2 separate regions of the Homo sapiens genome follow, and region 1 is linked to region 2. A link means that fine-mapping ties the variant in region 2 to the expression of a gene that starts in the linked region. Tissue or cell type: monocytes after muramyl dipeptide. Region 2 holds a variant in brackets; the other region holds the start of a gene. All regions are shown on one strand. Distances are between the middles of the regions.

Region 1 (2,684 bases), 650 kb before region 2:
TTGCTGTGAAATTTAGATTGGGCAGGGCCCGTTTGACCATCTCTCTCAATCTCAGGCTCTCCATTTTCAAGTGAGATGTAATAATATGCGTCCTGTTTACCTCTCAGCCTGTGATGAGAATCTAATGATTAGGGTGTGCTAGCACACAGGCACCTGTAAATCCCATTGAAATCTGAGGGCCCTATAACTCCTCTAGTGATTCCCAAGCCTCGTGCACCCCACCCTCTCTGTTCATCCTTACTTCCCACGTGTCCCGTTAGCCCTCCGGATGCAGTCAGGCCCATTTCCCCCAGGACGCCCGGCACTAAGCCGCCCCATCCAGCTGGGGTCTGAGGGGCCTGTCTCTTGCCCCACGCCTAAAAGACCTAACCCTCCTCCTATCCCTTCGATACGGCAGTCTTTATTTGCTGGAGTCTGCACAACATCACTGCCCAATGATGTGTCTGCTTCCACGATTCCCAAAGAGACTGAGCTTACTGAGACCAGGGCAAGGACCGCGCCAGTTCCTCATCGCCCCCTTCCTCTGCCTTCCCCTCCCTTCCCCCTCACCGCAGCCATGGCGCCCAGACCAAGAAAGCAGAGCAGAGGTTCCGCAATTCTTTTCTAAGATTGTCTGACTAGAGGGTTCAAAGCCCTCTAATCCAAGGCCGGCTTGTGTCTCTAGGGAGGTTGCAGAAAGGCGCCAGAATGTGGATGGCGCGGACAATGTGGGATACTGGAGTCTCGACTGCCGCGCGCCAAGGAAGGGCGTCACCTAGCCAAGCCGGCCCTGGAGTTGAGTGCCCCGCAGCCCGCCGGTCCACCCGCCCGGCCGCTTGCTGGCACCCTGGTGGCCGCGCCGGCTTTGTGTCGGCATCAGGTGCAAACCCCCAGAGCGCCGGGCGTGCGCGCACGCGCCCCGGAGCGCGCGGAGCCCATTCGTTGCCCCCACCGGGATCTCCTCTAGGATCTCCTCCGGCGCCCGGGGCCGGAGAGTGGGGGAGGGAGGAGGTCGGACACGTAGCCTGCCTCGCAGCAGGGCTCGACTCCACGCGGGAGGGCGGGGGAGCCGGGGACCCGCCGCTCCAGCCCGCTGGCCTTCGAAAGATCCTCCTGGGCCAATGGCAGGCGGGGCGACGCGACCGGATTGGTGCAGGCGCTCTGCTGATCGCTGTGGAAACTCGGGCGGCGGGGAACGCGGGAGGATGTGGAACCCGAGGCGGGGGGAGCCGGAGGGGCGGGCAGAGGAGGTGTCGAGGCCCTGAGCTCCCGGGGAGTTTTTACTGGAGGCAAAAGTCCATAGCGGGAGGGCTGAGGGAGGGGCGGAGGAAGGGGACCGCTTGGGGGCACTGGGAAGCCAGGGATCCTCCGCCAGGAAGGCAGGGACACTCCCGAGCGCAGGCGAGAAGGCTGGGGGAGGGGGCGCGGTGGGAGGAGTAGGAGAAGACAAAAGCCGAAAGCGAAGAGGGCCCGGGCTGCACACACCGGCTGGGAGGCAGCCGTCTGTGCAGCGAGCAGCCGGCGCGGGGAGGCCGCAGTGCACGGGGCGTCACAGTCGGCAGGCAGCATGGGGAAGGGAGGGAACCAGGGCGAGGGGGCCGCCGAGCGCGAGGTGTCGGTGCCCACCTTCAGCTGGGAGGAGATTCAGAAGCATAACCTGCGCACCGACAGGTGGCTGGTCATTGACCGCAAGGTTTACAACATCACCAAATGGTCCATCCAGCACCCGGGGGGCCAGCGGGTCATCGGGCACTACGCTGGAGAAGATGCAACGGTAAGGGTCTGGGGGCGCCCCAGCCACCCTTCTCTGCTGCAGGCGGAGTCAGGATCCCTGGCTCCCCGTGGGCCAAACAGACCTCCGGCGCTGAATGGAGCTTGGGACGTCCTGTAGGGAAGGAAAGTGCATCTATTGCACTCGTACCCCCTCCCCAATCCTCCTCCTCCTCTGGGCCGACTGGGGTGGAGACCGGATCTGGGACCCGGGGAGGCGGCGCTGCGGTGAAAGTCCCAGCGGTGGAGAACAGGGCAAGCATCTACCGCGCGCGCCGGGACCCACGCGTCCTCCCCTTCCTCGGGGTTTGTCTGGAGGCAGGGACTCCCCAAGAGGGGCGCTCGGGCCAGACGGCTTTGGCGCCCCCAGCGGGGAAGATGGCCGCCCCTGCGCGCCGCTGAAAGGAGCGGGAGCGCAGGCAGCCAGGTGTGGGACTCCGCGCTTGTCCCGCACTCTCCATCCAGACTGGGTGGCGAGAAGGAAAGCTCGTCCCCGGCCGGAGATCGCTCCTGCTGGGACTCTTGTCTAAGAAGTTCCTCAATGGCCACCTGGGAAAAACCGCCCAGCAGCTCGGGTTCCCACGCTCCAGGGATTATCTAGACTCACCCCAAGCTCGAGCCGGCCTTCTTGGGGACCGGCGTCCGGGATTGGTGGAAGGAGAACGGCCTGGGGTTTGCAAAGCCCAGGTCGAGTGAGGCCTTGAGCCGGTGGATTTAGCAGCACTAGACTGGCTTGGCAACAGGTCCGTCTGCACTCGAGGTTACTCTCGGGCGTTCAACTCAATGGCTCTCTCTTTTTAAATCCTGCCAAGAACACCCTTCCCTCATCTTGCACTCCTAAAGGTTGTGGGCCTCTCTGGAGCCATTGCTGCCCACCTTACCCCCACCAAATGCGTGGCTCAGTGATTACCCCGCACCAGCTACCCGCACCGGGG
Region 2 (2,684 bases):
TATAGGGCAAGTGCCGTGGCTCACGCCTGTAATCCCAGCACTTTGGGAGGCCAAGGCGGGCAGATCACAGGTCAGGAGTTCGAGACCAGCCTGGCCAACATGGTGAAACCCCTCTGTACTAAAAATAACAAAAATTAGCCAGGCATGGTGGCCGGCGCCTGTAGTCCCAGCTACTAGGGAGGCTGAGGCAGGAGAATCACTTGAACCCGGGAGGCGGAGGTTGCAGTGAGCTGAGACCGCGCCACTGCACTCCAGCCTAGGCAAAAGAGTGAAACTCCATCTCAAAAAAAAAAAAAAGTTATAAAAAGCAGGGGGATCCCAGTCAAGCCCTGGGCCAAGGCTTTCCAGAGGTGGTGATGGTTGTGCAGAAACCTGGAAGATAATTGGCTTAGGGGATGGGGGGCCTTCCTGGCCAAGGAGTAACATGTGTATAGGTACAGAGGCCTCTGGAACATTTGAGGAAGCGAAAGAAGGCCAGGGTGGTGAAGCCCGGGACCTGTACACCAAGAGCAAAGGGAAGTCAGGTGGACTCAAAATCCTCCCAGGAATTCCTCTCCGCAGGACTCAGTGCTATCTTAAGAGCAGAGCCCCTGGCCTCCCATCTCCTCCCCCACTATTCCAGGTGGTTTCTTAGAATGGCCTCTCACCACCACCCGCAGCCTCACCCAGCAGATCTGGTCAGGTCTGGTCAGCACACACATTCGCTCTTCTTCTCAGCTAGGGCCCAGGGGCTAAGCAGGAGCTGGGGCTGAGCCCCTGAGGTCTTTTCACACTAAGACTGGACCCTCCAGCCCCTGACAGGGCTCACCCCAGGGCTCCCCAACAAATTCAGGAGAGCAATGATACAAGAATGCCTCTTCTTTGATTTTGTTCTTGTCCTTTACTTCTCCCAAATTATTGCCCCTAGCAATGCCTAGAAAACAGGACAGGGTGCCGGGTGCCGGTGGCTCACTCCTGCAATCCCAGCAGTTTGGGAGGCCAAGGTTGGGGCTTGGAGATGGAGATTGCTTGAGCCCAGGAGTTCCTGACCAACCTAGGCAACACGGCAAGACCTCATCTCTACAACAACAACGACAAAAATTAGCTGGGCATGGTGGCACACGCCTGTGGTCCTAGCTACTCAGGAGACTGAGGTGCGAGGATCGCTTGAACCCAGGAGATCGATCCTCCTGCAGTGAGCCGTGATCATACCACTGCACTCCAGCCTGGGTGACAGAATGAGACCCTGCCTCAAAAAAAAAAAAAAAAAAAAAGAGAGAGAAAAGAAAAGAGCAAAAGAGGAAAATGTACACCATTAATACACCATTAAAAAAATCCCTCCTAGGCCTTTGATGACACTGTTTCACTAATTTTTTTT[G/T]TTTGTTTGTTTGTTTCTAAAACAGAGTCTTGCTCTGTCTCCCAGGCTGGAGTACAGTGGCGCAATCTCAGCTCACTACAACCTCCGCCTCCTGGATTCAAGTGATTCTCCTGCCTCAGCCTCCTGAGTAGCTGGAACTACAGACACATGCCACTGCGCTCGGCTAATTTCTTTTCATTAATGTTGACACAGTTAAGATGACAGAGTCTGTCTACTTCAGCACTTATTGTAATAAGATAGTAGGACAACTTTTCTAAGAGCTTTGCTTTCTTTTCTTTTTTTTTCTTTTTTCTTTTTTTTTTTTTTTTTGATACGGAGTTTCCCTCTTGTTACCCAGGTTGGGGTACAATGGCACGATCTCGGCTCACTGCAACCTCTGCCTCCCAGGTTCAAGTGATTTTCCTGCCTCGGCCTCCCGAGTAGCTGGGATTACAGGCATGCACCACCACGTCTGGCTAATTTTGTATTTTTAATGGAGACAGGGTTTCTCCACGTTGGTCAGGCTGATCTCGAACTCCTGACCTCAGGTGATCCGTCTACCTCAGCCTCCCAAAGTACTGGGATTACGGGCGTGAGCTACCCTGCCCAGCCCCTTTTTTTTTTTTAAGAGAGCCATTACTTGGGTAGTTTGGGGTCTGCGAAGTGCTAAAAATACTAGAAAATTACCTGAATATTTTTGTCAGGCCAACATTTTTGTCTTGGGTACAAGGAGGGTGGGAAGTTTGCCAGACTGCTCATAAGCCTTCTATTAAGATGTTTCCCTAAGAACCTGTCACCATGCAGAGGGGAATACCCCATACAAGCAGCAGGTCTCCATCTCCCCAACCAAATGCCTTCCATTCCCTTCTTCCACGACGCACGAAACAGATAAGGCATGAAATCAAAGCTCTCTTTCCAGAACCGGCTCTCCAAGTGGGTGATCCATTCCTGCATGCAATCTTGTCCTTTTGCCTGTTTAACTGTGAAACTATTCTTGAAAGTATTCCAAAGTGGCTTTAGGGAATATTCATATCTTGACTGTTTTTCACTTCAATAAAAAGTTAAGGCAAACTTGGCCCATTCCGGGGAGCTGGAATCCAGAGGGGAGGGAGATGAGGTCCCAGTGCTCCTTCTGGCTGGGTTCTGCCGGATTTATAGGAGGGCCTCACACCCCTCACCCCTGATTTCAAGCAGGAGGGTAGCAGGCAGAGCTTGGGAAGCCTCACCCGGACCCTGCCACCTGCCAGGAAGGTCAGGGCCCTGCTCCCCTGCCTGTGCCCACTGCTGGGAGCAGGCTGGACCCAGTGGCCAGCTGTCCTGGACAGTGACAGCCACAGAACCCTCAGCC

Evidence for each region. PIP is the estimated chance that this variant, and not a neighbour inherited with it, causes the effect.
Region 1: it holds the start of FADS2, and the variant in region 2 is the best candidate, but not a certain one, in a credible set for the expression of FADS2 in monocytes after muramyl dipeptide (Kim-Hellmuth 2017, PIP 0.74).

What each region holds. Positions count from the first base shown.
Region 1 is chr11:61,826,845-61,829,528 of GRCh38, forward strand. FADS2 (fatty acid desaturase 2) reads left to right here and starts at 1,456. Exons shown (of 12, transcript NM_004265.4): 1 at 1,456-1,753. The coding sequence starts at 1,547. RefSeq lists enhancers at 1-472, 473-1,150 and silencers at 742-1,181, 1,302-1,401, 1,422-1,521.
Region 2 is chr11:62,477,519-62,480,202 of GRCh38, forward strand. It overlaps a transcript of AHNAK not described here. Among named protein-coding and RNA genes, the nearest start is that of SCGB1A1, 60 kb to the left of the region's middle. The variant G/T (reference allele first, on the strand shown) is at 1,358.